Homo sapiens: one gene and its partners. The gene in region 1 interacts genetically with each later gene. Each region holds a gene or a part of one and is shown in the gene's direction. Other genes may lie near its edges.

What was found. Genes that interact genetically often act in the same process or in processes that back each other up.
Region 2: changes in NOD2 (region 1) and ATM together harm fitness more than expected from each alone (negative genetic interaction), as found in Homo sapiens cells (one study listed by BioGRID).
Region 3: changes in NOD2 (region 1) and IL22 together harm fitness more than expected from each alone (negative genetic interaction), as found in Homo sapiens cells (one study listed by BioGRID).

What each region holds. Positions count from the first base shown.
Region 1 is NC_000016.10:50,689,586-50,696,625, forward strand, and holds the start of NOD2 (nucleotide-binding oligomerization domain-containing protein 2), read left to right. Parts: upstream 1-4,020; 5' UTR 4,021-4,077; intron 4,078-7,040. UniProt on the Homo sapiens protein: Pattern recognition receptor (PRR) that detects bacterial peptidoglycan fragments and other danger signals and plays an important role in gastrointestinal immunity.
Region 2 is NC_000011.10:108,366,053-108,369,622, forward strand, and holds the end of ATM (serine-protein kinase ATM), read left to right. Parts: 3' UTR 1-3,050; downstream 3,051-3,570.
Region 3 is NC_000012.12:68,250,585-68,258,524, reverse strand, and holds the start of IL22 (interleukin-22 precursor), read left to right. Parts: upstream 1-4,920; 5' UTR 4,921-4,942; intron 4,943-5,030; 5' UTR 5,031-5,076; coding exon 5,077-5,262; intron 5,263-5,695; coding exon 5,696-5,761; intron 5,762-5,877; coding exon 5,878-6,021; intron 6,022-6,946; coding exon 6,947-7,012; intron 7,013-7,940. UniProt on the Homo sapiens protein: Cytokine that plays a critical role in modulating tissue responses during inflammation. Plays an essential role in the regeneration of epithelial cells to maintain barrier function after injury and for the prevention of further tissue damage.

The sequences.
Region 1 (7,040 bases):
CTTTGGACTAAGGGCACCTTTGTGAGTGTAAAGTGGTATCTTATGGTGGCTTTGATTCACATTTCCCTAACAATTAATGATGTTGAGCGTCTTTTCATGTGCTTGTTGGCTACTTACATACGTTCTCTGAACATTTTCAAATCCTTTGCTCATTTAAAAAGTTGTTTGTTATTGAGTTTCAGGAGTCCTTTATATATTCTGGATATGAGTCGTGACTATTTTCTCCCATTCCGTTGGTTGTCTTTTTACTTTCTTGATCATGTCTTTCAAAGCACAAAAGCTTGGAATTTTGATAAAGTCCAACTTATCTATTTTTTTCTTTGGTTGTTTGTGCTTTAGGTGTCAAATCTGAGAAATCATTGCTTCATCCAAGGTCACAAAGATTTTCACCTATGTTTTCTTCTAAGATTTTTATATTTTAAATCTTGCATTTGGGACTTTGATCCATTTTGGGTTAATTTTTGTATAAGGCCTGAAGGAGGAATCCAAATTCAGTTCTTTTGCATGTGGACATCTAGTTTTCCCAGCACCATTTGTTAAAAAGACCACTTTTTTCCCCCTGAATCATCTTGGCATCCTCGTTCAAAAAAGAGTCTACTTTATAAATTTAGCCTTATATATTCTAGGCAGCTTTCTATCTGATAAACATACTTATAGCATCTTTAAAAAATAAATATCTATTGAAATATGACAAGCATAAAGGAAAATATAAATATCATGTGTTTAACTTGGTCAGTTTCACAATGTATTTGCATCAATGCAACCACTATTCAGAGTAAAAATAGGAGATTACTGGCACCCCAGAAGTCCCCTTCACTCCTCCCCTAGTCACTACCTCCAACTTTCTCCCCAGTGGTAGCCTCTATCTTGGCTCCTACCTGTAATGCAGTTTTGCCTGCTTTTGAACTTTATAGAAAGGATACCATTCCGTATGCACGCTCTTGCACTCAGCCTGTTTCACCCAACATTATGTCTGTGAGGCTGCAGTTCTCGTGGGGGTACAGTGATTCATTTATTTTCATTGGTTATTAGAACCACAGCATTATTTTTAGTATATTCACTCAACAAAGATTTATTGCATGCCAGGTCCTGTTCTAGGCCTTGGGAGAAGGCAAGGGACAAAGCAAAAATTCCCTGTTCCCTTGGAGCTCATGCTGTCTTGGGTGAGAGACCAACAACAAAGACAATAAATAAGTAGAATACATAATGTGTTGTGTGCAGATAAGCGCTATGGAGAAAAATACAAAATAAAGCAGGAGAGAAGGGATTGGAGGGTGTTGCAGCTGTACACCGAATAGTTAGGGAAGGCCTTGCCGAGAAAGTCATATGGAAGCAAAGACCCAAAGGAGAGGAAGGAGGGAGCCAGGTAGATTTCTAAAGAAAGAGCATTCCAGGCACAGCAAAGGCAAAGGCCTGAGTGTAACTGCAGGTTTGGCATATTTGAGGAACAGCCAGGAGGCCAGTGTAGCTGGAGCAGAGTGAGTAAGATGAGAGTGTAAGAGGTGGGCAGAGAGGGTGCCAGAGGCCAAACAGCAATTGTAAGGACCTTGGCTTTTACTTTGGGATGGGAGCCATCAACAGAAGAGTTTCAGCAGAGGAGTGATAGAATTTGACTTAAAACAGCAACAACGACAACAACAGCAAAACCAACAGACTCACTCTGGCTGCTGGATTGAAGAAGGGCTGTAGATGGAGGCGTGGAGAATGGCCAGGAACTCCTGCTATCACCCAGGTGAGAGATGATGGAGATGTGGACCCAGGTGGTAATGGTGCATATGGCAAAAATGGGCTGCAGCTTGGAAATATTTGAAGGCCAAGCTGAAAAATTTGCTCCCAGATTGGATAGTGGGGCTGAGAGAAGATGGGTCGGGTTAAGTGTTCTAGGTTCAGATGTTCTGTCAGTTTTCTTAATTAATTTTCTGTTACTGGGCATTAGGGAGGTTTCTAGCTTCTCACTGCTGTAGGCAAGATGGTGGTGAACATCCTTGTAGATGGTTCTGTGCGCTGCCCAGAATGAATTTTCTAGGGTAGATTCAGTCCTTCTAATGCAGCATTTTCCAACCTTGGCTGACTGTGCACCACCTGCACAGGTATTTACTTGAAAGCGGTATGGGGTAGTGGTTAGAGCATTCATCTGTGCCAGAGGCCTGGGGCAAATCCCCATCTCTGGTGCCAGAGGAAAGGGGGCATCTCGAGGCTGGGGAGGCCCCTGGCAGGAGTGAGAAGTCCTGAGGAGCCCGGGCTTCAGGTCTCAGAGGGGGCCACTGTTTTTTGAGTACCTTCCTCTCTGTGGGACTCAGTTTCCCCATCTTCACCATGCCAGTGAGTGGGTGGGTGTAAGTGAGCGAGTCTGCCTGGAGGATCCTACTGCTGCTCTCTGCACCTCTTAGGGGAATCTCCTGCCTCCTCCTTCTCCCTTGGTGGGCGTGAGATCAAAGTTCAAATGTGTACCTCAGTTTCTGCATCTATAAGTTAGAGGCAATAATAGTCAATACCCTAGAGGTGGAAGTAACTGAGTTACTGTCTGTAAAGACTAGCACATGGTAAACACTTTCTAGATGCCAGTTATTTTCGTTATTTTTAAAAATTGACTTCACATTTTTTAAAACAACCAAATATGAGTTTCAAAAGGAACATTTACATTAACATGTTAAATGGAAAACCGGTGTCATTTGCTCCGGAGAACAGAAGAATGTAAAATAAAATATATTTAATGGAAACAAAAACAATGCTATTAAAGCTAATTAGATAGTTTCAGAGCCAAGTAATCTAGGCAGTGCTAGAAAGGTACTCAAACCCTATTAGTACTAAACTGAGAAATAAACTCCATTCAACATAAACGGAAAAACTGAAAGGAAAATGAAAAAAAAGAACCTTAAATGACCAGTCCACTCTTACCTAACATGTAACCTGTCACACTCTGGAAAAGTTTTCCTAGTTTTGGCTGTGTGTGCGTGTGTGTGTGTGTGTGTGTTGGGAAGTGAGGCGTGTGTTGGGAAGCGATGTGTGTGTTGGGAAGCGATGTGTGTGTGTTGGGAAGTGGGGTGTGTGTATATTGGGAAGCATGTTTGTGTGTGTTGGGAAGCGGTGTGTGTGTTGGGAAGTGGTGTGTGTGGGGTGTGGTGTGTGTGTGTTGGGAAGTGGTGTGTGTGTGGGGTGTGTGTATGTGCACGTGTGTGTTGGGAAGCAGTGTGTGTGGGGTGTGTGTGTGTTGGGAAAGCAGGGAGTGTAGTGTGTGTTTGTGTTGGAAAGTGGTGTGTGTGTGGGGTGTGTGTGTGTGTGCACGTGTGTGTTGGGAAGCGGTGTGTGTGGGGTGTATGTGTTGGGAAAGCAGGGTGTGTGTGTGTTGGGAAGTGGTGTGTGTGTGAGTGTTGGGAAGCAGGGTGTGTGTGTTGGAAGTAGGGGGTGTATGTGTATCGGGAAGCATGTTTGTGGTGGGGGGAAGCAGGGCGTGTGTGTGTGTGTATGTGAGTGTTGGGAAGCAAGGTATGTGTGTTGGGGGAAGCGAGGGCTGTGTGTGTATTGGGAAGCATGTTTGTGTGTGGGGGGAAGCGAGGGCTGTGTGTGTGTATTGGGAAACATGTTTGCGTGTGGGGGGGAAGCAGGGCGTGTGTGTGTGTTGCGAAGCGGTGTGTGTGTGGTGTGTGTGTGTGCGCGTGTGTGCTGGGAAGCGGTGTGTGTGGTGTGTGGTGTGTGTGTGTGTGTATGTGTATGTGTTGGGAAGCGGGTTGTTCCGAGGACTCCCCGATTCCCTCCTGGTTGAAACGTGGCCCAGAAAGAGAGGCACACTGGCTAGGGCACACAGCCAGGGCCGTCCAGCCCCGCAGGAAGCCCCGGTCCTGCCCTGTCCCAGGTAAGCCTGGCCAGCCCTGGAGCCGGCGCTGCGGGGCTGCGGGGCTGCGGGGCTGCGGGGCCACGGGACAGGAGCGGGTGCTGCGGTCCCGGCAGAGCAGGGGCGGGGTCCGGGCGGGGGCGGAGCCGAGCGCCCGCGCACCCGGAGCCGCAGCCCGAGCCGGAGCCGGAGCCGGGAGTCGTGGCCCGGAGTGGGCCTTGGAGTCGGCGCGCAGGCGGCTCGCGGTGAGTGCTGTGCCCAGCGCCTGGGGGTGGGCTGGGGGGAGACTGTGGGCGCCGAGGGTCCCACCCCCGGGACTTGAACACTTGGCTTCTGAGCCGTCCTGGCCGCAGGGCTTGGGCAAGGGTTGCCTCGGTTTCTCCTGGGGGAGTCCCAGAATGTAGATGGGAAGTGAGACGGAAAGGGGGCATCTCGAGGTTGGGGAGGCCCCTGGGCCACTCTTTTGATTTCCTTCCTCTCTGTGGGACTCAGTTTCCCCAGCTTCACCATGCCAGTGAGTGGGTGGGTATAAGTGAGAGAGTCTGCCTGGAGGATCCTGCTGCTGCTCTCTGTACCTCTTATGGGAATCTCCTGCCTCCTCCTTCTCCCTTGTTGGGTGTGAGATCTAAGTTCAAATCCATCCCTTCCCAGACAGCCCACACCAGGACCTGCGAGGCCACATCCCCCAGCTGTTTGCTCTCCTATGCTTCTCAGGTTGATGGAGCAGCCATCTGGTCCTGCTTTCATTCCAACAAACTGAAAAGCCCTCCACCCCAATCCCCCTGGGGAGGACCTCCTGAAGCTGCATGAGGGCTGGGGGCTGGACCCCTGCTTCTGAGTTTGCTCTTTCTGAGCCTCTCCTGCCATGGCCTTGGTTTCCCCATGGGCTGTGACCTAGCCTCCTCCAGGGTCCTTGTTCTACAGAGGGGAAACACCTGCCCTGTCACCCTCCCCTGACCCCTTAGTGAAAAAGACCAGAGTGACATCCCCACCACCTGTACTTGCCTGTCCCGATCACTCAGCCATGGGGCTGCTGGGGCCCCTGAGTTTGTTGGCTGCTCAAGGCCCCTTTGCCTCGCTGCACCCTGGGATCTGAGGCTGGAAGCATCCTCATCCAGCCCACCTCCCTCCTACCCAGTGCAGAGCCCCTCTGTGACACATGCCCAGTGGTGGGGAGCTTATTACTGATGAGGTGGCTTTTTAGTGCCTTGCAGCTCTTGTTTCCTTTAGCTAAAATCTGTGGCTTACAGATTCTACACCTTGGTTCCATGTCTGTCTCCCGGAGCCATGCAGAGCAAGTCAGTTCTTTCATTCTTTCCAGCAGTCATCATTCATGCACTGGATGAGACACGAGACAGAGCAGTAGGAAAATCAGACAAAACCCCCTGCCCTCATGGAGTGCACACTCTAGAAAGGAATGGACAGCAATGAAATAAGTAAATACATGGCGTAGCAGGTGGCGGGAAGTACTACGAGTAAAACAAAGCTGGGAAGCAGGATGGGGTGCTGGGGCTGGGTATTGCATTGTATATAGCACAACCAGGGAAGGCTTCCCCAAGACCACGATAGCTGGGCAAAGTCATAAGGAATTGAGGGGTGAGCCACATGAGTATCTGGGGGGCTGGGAGGCTTTGGTTTTCACTCTGAGCATGATGGGAGCACGGGTTTGGAACAGAGGAGTCACCTGCTTTGACTTGGGGTCTGGCAGGCCCATCTAGCTGTGGGGTGGAGAATGGATCATGGGGGGGGTGGGGTAAGGGCAGAAGGAGAGCCCGTTGAGCGGATCATTGCTGTCATTCTCGGGAGAGACCATGGTGTCTTGCCCATGGCCCAGAGGTGGTTAAAAAAAAGAAAACCAGACATTCAGATTTGGGATATATTTCAAAGGCCGTGTCGATAGGGTTTGGGGTGCAAGAGAAAGGTAGAGTCAAAGATGATTCTGAGTGTTTGGCTCGAGCTTCTGGAGGTTTGAAGCTGCCATGAACTGAAATGGGAGTTGCTTAGCGGAGAGATCAAGAGTTTGGTTTTGTGCTTGTGGAGTTTGAGCTGCCCATTAGGCATCAATGATGAGTAAGCAGTTGGGAAAAGTTAAGGGCGGAGGTTGGAGTTGAAAATAAAACTTTGGGCATCATCACCATATAACTGGTATTTAAAGCCACAAGAGCAGGTGGGCTCATCTAGGGATGGAGTGATATGGAGAAGAGAAGGGGTCTAACCATTGAGTGCTGGGGCCCCCAGTGTTAGGAACCAGCCAAGAAGACAGAAAGAGTGAAAATCAGAGAGTTGGGGTGTCCTGGAGGAAATGAAGAAAATGCCCCAAAGAGGAAGGAGGGAACAAATATGACCAATGCCCCTGGCAGAGCAAGCAGGCTGAGGGCTGAGGATTGAGCAATGGGAGGTCACTGGTGACAGTTTCACTGGAGCTGGATGGGGAACTAGAGGGAATGGGAGGGGATGGGAGGACTTGGGGACAGCAGTACAGGCAACAGACAAGGGGGCCTGCTGTAAAGGGAGCAGATAAATGGGATTGGAGCCAAATGAAGAAGGGGAGTGTCAAGAGAGTGCTTTACTTTTACAATGGAGAATTAGAGTGCATTGTGCACTGGTGGGGGGATTTGATCTCTTAGGGAGAGAACAGTGTTAGGGAGGGAGAATGCAGGATAGCTGGGGGAGGGTGGGGGGCTTGGCCCCAGCAGAGACTCAGGACACTTGGGAAGTTGAGCTTCCCTGGGCTTCCCCTCCTCTCCTGTCTGCAAGGGGTCAGTGGGCTGAGATTTCAGCACTTAAGCAAAGCATTTGCTCTTGGCCCCAGAGAAACCGGGCTGGCTGTGGTCTCAGGAAGGAAGGAGGTGTCCAGGCTCAGGCCTGGGCCTGGGTTTCAGGGAGGGCCCACGTGGGTCGCCCCTTGACCCTCTCTTTCAGCAAGGAAGTGATCCTTTCTCTACATGGGCCTCACCTTGGGGAGGACAATGGTGTCTTTGAAGTTGTAGTAACTGAAGTAGAGATCAAAAGGCAATGCAGATAGACTGACAGATTTCGCCTGAAGAGGGGAAGCCCGACCAGGTAATAAAGGAGTAAGAGGAAGGATGTTAAGGACAATTTTAGGAAACAGATAATGAGTGAATATTTTTTCTCTCTCTTTCCCAATTTAAACTGAAGCAGGAGAAACTGAAGCTAGACATAATGATTAACTTCCCAAGCTGGTGAG
Region 2 (3,570 bases), on another chromosome or scaffold:
AACGTATTTGGATTTTTCCTAGTAAGATCACTCAGTGTTACTAAATAATGAAGTTGTTATGGAGAACAAATTTCAAAGACACAGTTAGTGTAGTTACTATTTTTTTAAGTGTGTATTAAAACTTCTCATTCTATTCTCTTTATCTTTTAAGCCCTTCTGTACTGTCCATGTATGTTATCTTTCTGTGATAACTTCATAGATTGCCTTCTAGTTCATGAATTCTCTTGTCAGATGTATATAATCTCTTTTACCCTATCCATTGGGCTTCTTCTTTCAGAAATTGTTTTTCATTTCTAATTATGCATCATTTTTCAGATCTCTGTTTCTTGATGTCATTTTTAATGTTTTTTTAATGTTTTTTATGTCACTAATTATTTTAAATGTCTGTACTTGATAGACACTGTAATAGTTCTATTAAATTTAGTTCCTGCTGTTTATATCTGTTGATTTTTGTATTTGATAGGCTGTTCATCCAGTTTTGTCTTTTTGAAAAGTGAGTTTATTTTCAGCAAGGCTTTATCTATGGGAATCTTGAGTGTCTGTTTATGTCATATTCCCAGGGCTGTTGCTGCACACAAGCCCATTCTTATTTTAATTTCTTGGCTTTAGGGTTTCCATACCTGAAGTGTAGCATAAATACTGATAGGAGATTTCCCAGGCCAAGGCAAACACACTTCCTCCTCATCTCCTTGTGCTAGTGGGCAGAATATTTGATTGATGCCTTTTTCACTGAGAGTATAAGCTTCCATGTGTCCCACCTTTATGGCAGGGGTGGAAGGAGGTACATTTAATTCCCACTGCCTGCCTTTGGCAAGCCCTGGGTTCTTTGCTCCCCATATAGATGTCTAAGCTAAAAGCCGTGGGTTAATGAGACTGGCAAATTGTTCCAGGACAGCTACAGCATCAGCTCACATATTCACCTCTCTGGTTTTTCATTCCCCTCATTTTTTTCTGAGACAGAGTCTTGCTCTGTCACCCAGGCTGGAGTGCAGTGGCATGATCTCAGCTCACTGAAACCTCTGCCTCCTGGGTTCAAGCAATTCTCCTGCCTCAGCCTCCCGAGTAGCTGGGACTACAGGCGTGTGCCAACACGCCCGGCTAATTTTTTGTATTTTTATTAGAGACGGAGTTTCACCGTGTTAGCCAGGATGGTCTCGATCGCTTGACCTCGTGATCCACCCTCCTCGGCCTCCCAAAGTGCTGGGATTACAGGTGTGAGCCACCGCGCCCGGCCTCATTCCCCTCATTTTTGACCGTAAGGATTTCCCCTTTCTTGTAAGTTCTGCTATGTATTTAAAAGAATGTTTTCTACATTTTATCCAGCATTTCTCTGTGTTCTGTTGGAAGGGAAGGGCTTAGGTATCTAGTTTGATACATAGGTAGAAGTGGAACATTTCTCTGTCCCCCAGCTGTCATCATATAAGATAAACATCAGATAAAAAGCCACCTGAAAGTAAAACTACTGACTCGTGTATTAGTGAGTATAATCTCTTCTCCATCCTTAGGAAAATGTTCATCCCAGCTGCGGAGATTAACAAATGGGTGATTGAGCTTTCTCCTCGTATTTGGACCTTGAAGGTTATATAAATTTTTTTCTTATGAAGAGTTGGCATTTCTTTTTATTGCCAATGGCAGGCACTCATTCATATTTGATCTCCTCACCTTCCCCTCCCCTAAAACCAATCTCCAGAACTTTTTGGACTATAAATTTCTTGGTTTGACTTCTGGAGAACTGTTCAGAATATTACTTTGCATTTCAAATTACAAACTTACCTTGGTGTATCTTTTTCTTACAAGCTGCCTAAATGAATATTTGGTATATATTGGTAGTTTTATTACTATAGTAAATCAAGGAAATGCAGTAAACTTAAAATGTCTTTAAGAAAGCCCTGAAATCTTCATGGGTGAAATTAGAAATTATCAACTAGATAATAGTATAGATAAATGAATTTGTAGCTAATTCTTGCTAGTTGTTGCATCCAGAGAGCTTTGAATAACATCATTAATCTACTCTTTAGCCTTGCATGGTATGCTATGAGGCTCCTGTTCTGTTCAAGTATTCTAATCAATGGCTTTGAAAAGTTTATCAAATTTACATACAGATCACAAGCCTAGGAGAAATAACTAATTCACAGATGACAGAATTAAGATTATAAAAGATTTTTTTTTTGTAATTTTAGTAGAGACAGGGTTGCCATTGTATTCCAGCCTTGGCGACAGAGCAAGACTCTGCCTCAAAAAAAAAAAAAAAAAGGTTTTGGCAAGCTGGAACTCTTTCTGCAAATGACTAAGATAGAAAACTGCCAAGGACAAATGAGGAGTAGTTAGATTTTGAAAATATTAATCATAGAATAGTTGTTGTATGCTAAGTCACTGACCCATATTATGTACAGCATTTCTGATCTTTACTTTGCAAGATTAGTGATACTATCCCAATACACTGCTGGAGAAATCAGAATTTGGAGAAATAAGTTGTCCAAGGCAAGAAGATAGTAAATTATAAGTACAAGTGTAATATGGACAGTATCTAACTTGAAAAGATTTCAGGCGAAAAGAATCTGGGGTTTGCCAGTCAGTTGCTCAAAAGGTCAATGAAAACCAAATAGTGAAGCTATCAGAGAAGCTAATAAATTATAGACTGCTTGAACAGTTGTGTCCAGATTAAGGGAGATAATAGCTTTCCCACCCTACTTTGTGCAGGTCATACCTCCCCAAAGTGTTTACCTAATCAGTAGGTTCACAAACTCTTGGTCATTATAGTATATGCCTAAAATGTATGCACTTAGGAATGCTAAAAATTTAAATATGGTCTAAAGCAAATAAAAGCAAAGAGGAAAAACTTTGGACAGCGTAAAGACTAGAATAGTCTTTTAAAAAGAAAGCCAGTATATTGGTTTGAAATATAGAGATGTGTCCCAATTTCAAGTATTTTAATTGCACCTTAATGAAATTATCTATTTTCTATAGATTTTAGTACTATTGAATGTATTACTTTACTGTTACCTGAATTTATTATAAAGTGTTTTTGAATAAATAATTCTAAAAGCATATACTAAGACTCATTCACTTTATTCAAATATTTGTGTGTTCTGTGTGCCAGGCATGGGACTCGTTCTAAGGAGAAAGCAGTGAGCAAGGCAGGCATAGTCTGCCTATATAAAGCTCCCAATCTGAGGAGGATAGGCAACTGACCACGCAGTGTGAACCGGGGAGCCTATTGCACAACCAGTCTGATAATGCTGCATCTCAGTCTAAATATCCTAGTAGTGTTTCTTAGTCGCCTCCTGACGAAAAGGCAAATATGAATGTTCTTTCTTTGGGCCTAGAAAGTGATCTAGTTGACATTTCTAGCCTAAAAGATCTGTACTAGAATATGACAAGTGCAAAGATCCTGGTATCCTAAATGCAAAGTTTTTTACCTGTTTATCATATTTTTAAAATAAATTCAGTCCTCTGGAGTTTTAGTCTCTTTTGCCTAGATTTTAACAAAATGCATTTTGCATAAATATAGTGGAGTCAAAGTTTCCACAAAGATTATAATGACTCAGAATTTGGTAAGTAAGGAGATCT
Region 3 (7,940 bases), on another chromosome or scaffold:
TTGAGGTCAGGAGTTCGAGACCAGCTTGGCCAATATGATGAAACCCCATCTCTACTAAAAATTAGCCAGGCATGGTGGCGGATGCCTGTAATCCCAGCTACTTGGGAGATTGAGGTGGGAGAGTTGCTTGAACTGAGGAGGTGGAGGTTGCAGTGAGCTGAGATTGCACCACTGCCCTCCAGCTTGGGTGACAGAGCGAGACTCCGTCTCAAAAAAAACAAAAACAAAAACAAAACAAAAGGAGGAGAGTTTGTTATGGCTACAACCAAAAATATACAGGGAACTCTTACAAATCAACAACAGAAAAAGAGCAAAGCCCGCTAGAAAAATGAGTGACTAATGTAAGTAACCAATGTATAAAAGGTGGAAACCCGAGTGGCTACTAGTGTATGAAGAAAAATGTAAATTAAAACAGTAACAAGATAGATACCATTTTAAACCTCCAAAGCCTGGCCAAGTTAAAGCTGGATCATACGAAGTGTGGAGGGGGATTTAAGGAAACAGAGGAAGCTTTATTTGCTGGTGTGAGAGTAGATTAACACTCTTTCTGGAGAGCAATCTGGCAATATTTAGTAAATGCTAATAAACTTATCCTTATGACTTAGTGGACATACTTCAAAAATTATGTCAAAAATACTCTCAAAAAATACCATAAAAATGACTTGGTTAAGGGTGTTTAGAGCTACAATGTCTGTGGTCTGGGCAATTGGAGGCAGTTCAGGTGCCCACTGTTGGAGAATGAATAAGTAAGATGTGGTCGGTACACACTCTGGAATGTCACATTACAAGCAGAGGCTACACAAAGAAACATGGACAGATGGTAAGACATCATGCTCAGTAAAAAGGTAAGAAAGAGAGCCATTCCTGTAAAATAAAAATACCTACACACACTAAACAACACTTCTTTTTGCACAGGGATGCATCGATATTCAGAAATACACATGAAACATTAGAGCCATGACCTATGGCAATGGTAGAGGTGGTGGTAGGTGTTTAGTGGGGAGGGAAGGAGAATGATGAGGGTAGGATCACACCCACGCACGTGTGCACACACACACACAGAAACTTGTATGGAACAATGATCATGTGCACTGGACTGAAGAGTATGATGAGTACAAATCTTTTTACCTGTGATACCAGAAGTCTTCTTTCTTCTAGGGAGATTTGTGTCTTAAAGAATGCATTTCCAGTCATGGATTTTCTAGCATCAGTCAATGAGTTGGGAAACTATTTTATGTATGTGATCAATGAATATTTATTTTGCCACTATATGCCAGGCACTGTTCCATGTGCTAGGCACAGTATAGTGAATGAGACAGCCAAAGCCTACTTCTGGTTGAGGATTCTGATTAGTCCTTCTTGGCATTAGATCAGGTAAATTGTTACATATTCCAAATCAACCATGGGTATGGTCTGTCTGGGACCTGGGAGGTGGGCTTTGGGGTTGCTCTTCATCTGCGGTGGCTTTGGGAGAGACTTGAAAATTCACAAGGAAACAACTGCAGAAAAGGCCCATTATAATCTGAAAGTATTTAGCATACATATGTCTCTGGTTGCTGTTTTCACAGGATCACCTTTTTGTTATACCCACAATCTCTTCCATTTTTTTTTTTGAGACAGAATCTTGCTCTATCACCCAGACTATAGCACAGTGCGGTGATGTTGTCTCACTGCAACCTCAGCCTCCTGGGTTCAAGCGATTCTCCCACCTTAGCCTCCCGAGTAGCTGGGACTATAGGTGCACCACCACCCCCGGCTAATTTTTGTATTTTTAGTAGAGACAGGGTTTCACCATGTTGGCCAGACTAGTCTCAAACTCCTGACCTCAGGTGATCTGCCCACCTCAGCCTCCCAAAGTGCTGGGATTATAGGCGTGAGCCACTGCGCCCAGCCTCACAATCTCTTCTAATAGCAAATATTTCTGAGACTCCTAGTATGACTGTTCAGAAACCCCCATACAACACCAGAGCAGATTTTCCCTTTAGTGAGTTTTAGTTAAACTCATTGAAACTTAAGATCTAGGCTCCATTAACACTATCTTCTTGATGCTTGGTCCATCAGGGGCATACAATGAATAAGAGACACACTGCTGCTCTTAAAGAGGGCTTTGCAATTTTCTGACATTCTCTTTCTGTTTCACAGTGATTTATTTTCTATTCAGGAACAATAAGCTGGTAAGCAGGACTGGGTCAAACATCAACTTTAGAAATACCGTAAAGGCTGTCAATATGCTTTTATTGAGTCCTTCCTATGTGTGTAGCACTGTTCTAAGTGTTGGAGTCACAAAGACGAAAGAGACAGAGACTCTTCCCTCGAAAGCATGTAATTCAACGATGTCAAAACTTATTTTCCCGTGGAAAGAAAATTATGTATGCTGGTCAGTTTCCCAGGCAAACCCACAAAAGCCTATTTAATCGATGAATAGCTTAAATCTAGTGCTAATAGAATTATACGGAGTTCTGGGCAAAAATGGCCATATATAATAGGAAACTGAATAAGGAAGAGTTTCATCATCTTTTCTTGGGCCCATGGTCAACCCCAAGGAAACATTTGGAACACACCTATTTTTTTTCAATTCAGAAAAAAAATCTTATTTTTATTTGACAAATAAAAATTATATATACAGTATTTATGTTACACAATATGATGTTTTAAAAATTACTTATTTTTTAAATTGATGCATTATAATTGTACATATCTATGGAGTATAATTTGATGTTTTGATATAAGTGTATGCTGTATGATACAATTAGGTTAGTTAGTGTATCCATCACCTCATGCATTTATCATTACTTTGTGGTGAGAATCTTCAAAAGCCTCTCTTCTAGCTATTTTGTAAAATACAATATTTTCCTGTTAAATACAGTCATTCTACTGTGTAATAGAACACCGAAATTATTCCTTCTAATTGTATCGTTGTACCCGTTGACCAACCTCTCCCCATCCTCCTTTCCCCACTTACTCCCCCAGTCTCTGGTAAACCACTGTTATATTCTCTGCTTCTATATCAACTTTATTATTATCATTATTATTTTTTAGATTCCACATATCAGTGAGATCATGCAGTATTTGTTTTTCCGCATCTGATTTATTTCACTTAACATGGTGTCCTTCAGGTTCATTCACGTTATTGCAAATGACAGGATTACATTTCTTTTATGGCTGAATAGTATTCCATTGTGTATATATACCACATTTTCTTTATCCATTCATCCATCCATCTGTGGATACTTAGGTTGATTTCATATATGTTTTGATATACGCATGCATTGTGGAATGGCTAAATTGAGTGAATTAACATATATGCATTACCTCACATACTTGAAATTTTTTTTTGTAATGAGAACATTTACAATCTATGCTCTTTGTGATTTTTAAGCATACGATATATTGTTCTTAACTATCATCACCATGATGGACAATAGAGCTCTTCAACTTATTCCTCTTCTTTAACTGAAATGTTGTATCCTTTGGGTAACATCTCCCCATCTCGCTGCCCCTTGCCCACCCAGCCCCTGGCAACCACCATTCTACTCTTTCCTTCTATGAGTTCAAGTGTTTTAGATTCCACATGCAAGTGTGATCATGTGGTGTTTTTTACTCTCACTAATCTTCATTTTTGCTTCTTTCTCCTCTGGCCACCTTCACAAATGCTCAGTGTCCTCATGTGGTTCCGACCCTTTGCAGTGGCACCTTGCTTAGGTCTGTGCCATCTCAAAAAGTGGTCTAGGTTTTACAATTATTTACATCCCTACTTCCAGTTCTTCAACACTCCTGATCTTAACTAGTTGTGAGGAGAAAAATCTGATTATACAAATTTGCACTAATTCACATTCCTTCCCTCAGCAATAGGTATTTGCATTTTGATACTTGCATTTGCTTCCTTGCTCTGCGGGAGAATTTCCAGTCTAGTTTTAGGTGTATTTTTAAATAATTTGAAGGTAACGCGGAACCTCTATATTCCTATATTCCCTTCTTCAGACATCCATGTGTGTGTGTGTATATATGTATATATATAAAATGTTGCATATATATGTATATATATAGTATACACACATATATAATATATATACACACACATATATAGTTGTTATAGGATTATTTGGAAATATTATGTTGAGACTTGTGTGAAGTGTAGAATTAGGTAAAATTTTAAGATGAACTATATCCATGGTATTCTTTTATTTTAAAAAAAGTTTACATGTTAAGAAAAAAGGAGATCAGATTTTCAGCATTAGTATTTACAAACTTAAGTTGATATTGATTATAATTCAATTAATACAATTTTAAGATATATTTACTTCTGCCTTAATTGTTATGATCACTTAAAAATAGTTCCAAAAAGGGAAGAAAACAATAATTAGATTAGCCAAGACAGTTATTTTTGAAACATAAGTCTGGTTTAGAATTCAGCATGTTTAAAAATGAGATAAAATTATTTTAATAATGGAATGATCTGTTAGCTGTCATTACCATTTACTTTAAAGCAGAGGATATAGGACATGGGTCCTTTTTTTCTGATCACCTCCAATGAGATAAGAATCTATAAAGCTGGTAGGAAAATGAGTCCGTGACCAAAATGCTTACTCAGCCACTATAGGAGATCAAAACATTTTATACTAAATCTGAACTCTACTAAGACAAAACAATTGTGTTCTTTGAAAAATATGTAGGGTTTAGAAAATTTCTGGGATTTGTCTGTAAAATACCCTCCGGGCTCTAATAGTGACGTTTTAGGGAAACACTTGCATCTCAAGGTGGAAAGGATAGAGGTGGTGTTTTGTGGGCTCCTGTGGTGGTTAGGTCGTTCTCAGAAGACAGTACTGGAAATTAGATAATTGCTGATGTCATATTTTTCACAATTAAAAAAAAGTCAGTATCCTGGGGGCTATAAAAGCAGCAGCTTCTACCTTCCCCGTCACAAGCAGAATCTTCAGAACAGGTAAGCGTTTCGGCAAACTTGGTACAATTGGTTAGTTTGATGAAATACTTCTTGACTAATTTTGTTCCTTCACGTTGTCTTCGACCAGGTTCTCCTTCCCCAGTCACCAGTTGCTCGAGTTAGAATTGTCTGCAATGGCCGCCCTGCAGAAATCTGTGAGCTCTTTCCTTATGGGGACCCTGGCCACCAGCTGCCTCCTTCTCTTGGCCCTCTTGGTACAGGGAGGAGCAGCTGCGCCCATCAGCTCCCACTGCAGGCTTGACAAGTCCAACTTCCAGCAGCCCTATATCACCAACCGCACCTTCATGCTGGCTAAGGAGGTATACATCTCAATCCTGCTCTTTCTCGTTGGATCTACTTGGAATCCAAATAGTTCTTAAACTTTTCTTCAGAGCATCTCTAAGAGCTTTAGGAACCCACTGTTTATCCCTGAGGGTAGATAAATTTTCTGTTTTTTCAGAGACTCTTTGGGAATCTGGCTTTTTTTTTTTTCTTGAACTTCTTCCTTCCATTTTGGCCTTTATGATACATATGATGAATTTTTCCCAAAGAGCGGCCATTCAGTAATCCATCTGATGATTTTTTTTTTCCTTTATGCCTCTGTGCATTGTTCTAAACTCATGCACACATCTGAATTCTGCTTTTAGTCTTTATGATGTTGCTCTGGGGAGACGGGATGGGGCACATGTCTATGTATAAATTTTTTTTCTATTTGCTCAATGTCCAGACCCTTAGTCTTTTCTTCTCTTCCAGGCTAGCTTGGCTGATAACAACACAGACGTTCGTCTCATTGGGGAGAAACTGTTCCACGGAGTCAGTGTAAGCTACAGTTGTGACGAACAGGGCCGTGTGCCGTCCATGGGTACTTGGGGTGGTGGTGATGATGGTTTAGGTCTTATCCCTTATGACCCTTTCTGTTTCCCTTCCACCTGCAGATGAGTGAGCGCTGCTATCTGATGAAGCAGGTGCTGAACTTCACCCTTGAAGAAGTGCTGTTCCCTCAATCTGATAGGTTCCAGCCTTATATGCAGGAGGTGGTGCCCTTCCTGGCCAGGCTCAGCAACAGGCTAAGCACATGTGTAAGTTCAGCTCTCAGCCTATGCCCACCTACCCCTCCTTCCCTCCTTCCACAGAGACCCCCTTACCCCAACTCTCTCTCCTTCCCCCTACCCCTAAGCTAGCAGGAAGAAGTGTCTTGGCAGCAGTGTTATCAGGAGTCATTTGGGATCATAGAGTATTTGCTTTTGCTTTGACTGAGTCACATCTTGAGTTTATAGTGGTGAATGGGGTCTGGAACTTAAGTGTACAGAAGCCGCATTGGTTTGTCTTCGGAAAAAAGGCAACTCAGGTTGCGTAAGATGAGAAAGGTGTTGGGAAAAACATCTAGATGTGGAAATGGATCCATTGAGTCTAAGTTGTTGAGGGGAGGGGATGGCATGGAGAGAAATTAGAAGAGAAAGTGGGAAATGGGAAGGCTTAAAGTCGGTGGTGGGTCGGCAGACTGTTGCCCTGTTGATGTCATGGGAAGCCACAAAATCGGAGGCGTGTGAACTTGATGCCGCTGAACATTTGAAACTATGAAAAAAAGTTTGAGTGGAGTGGGCCCAGTAAAAGGCCCTAGGACTTACTGAAGAGGGCTTAATTTTCACATGAGATGTTTTATGTACATTTCTTGTTCTAAGCATGCAATTTTCTGGAGATACGATTGAGGTTTTATTCCTTACAGAATTTGCATAAACTACTCCGCTCTTTCCACAAATGCAAACCTCAGTAGGATTTCCCAAAGATGAAGAGAGGTCTCTTGTAAGGGAAGTGACTGGATTCTGGCGTCCAAGGGAATTCAAGAGCTCAGGAAATCTAGGTCACTGTTGAAATCTAGGTCATTGTGGGCAAAATTACTAAGAGCTTTAATTCCAGGTGAATTGTACTGTACCTCCATGGGTGTGGAGGTTCATAAAGTTTCAGCACAACATTAAGATAGTTATGCTTGTTATTGTTTTATAGCATATTGAAGGTGATGACCTGCATATCCAGAGGAATGTGCAAAAGCTGAAGGACACAGTGAAAAAGGTAGGACTGATAACTGTCAATGCTAAGTCATGCAATAGGAGAGACAAATGTTGTTTTTCTTTCCTTTCTTTCTTCCCATCACTTTGTGATTTTTCACTTGATTCTCCTACCACCAGGGCGATTACTTTGGTGTCTGTGTATGTAGATATATCTATATATCTAGATGTCAGTTTCCAAATCTTGCAAATTGTAGAATTCTAGAACTGGTTGGGATCTTAGCTTGTCTAGTCACATAACCTCAGATTCTGGGGATGGTCAGTGGCAGAGATAGGGCTAGAATGCAGGTCTCCTGAATCCCAAGCCAGCACTTTTCCCGGTGGTGATACAGATTAGTTTTGGTACCATTAATTCTTAGGGAAATTTCAGATTCCTATTGACTCATGTAATCTGAAGAAGTACTTGTTTAAAAACAGAAAAATGCCTATGGGCAAATTTATTTGAAGTCATTTTTGAAGTCATTAATGCATTGCTTTGAAACTTGGAAGAATAAACTCAGAACAATGAGAAAAGAGCTGGACTTGCATATAGGGCTAATTTCTGGAGTAATAAACACTTATTTTGAATTATCATAATATCTATCAGATATTGATTATAGTTTAAAAGCAAGAGCAGACAACCCCGATCTCTTTTATACAGGTTCAAATAGAGTAAAAATATTAGTAAGAGATTTATTAAAGTTAAATGGAAGTCTGAATTGGTAAGCTTTTTTTTCTTCCTCTCTCCCATCAAGACCTTCCATTCTAGTTTCTTCCTTCACTCCCTCAACAAATCCCTAGGGAGCATTTATCCATGGTGGGCTGGTGTACATTTCTATAGTGAATGATACCATCATGTGGCCTATTTGGTGAAAAGAACAACAATGGAAGGCTTAGACTAACAATAGTGACTCACCCCAAAACCGGAGGAATGATTAGGAGCAGTGAAAGTG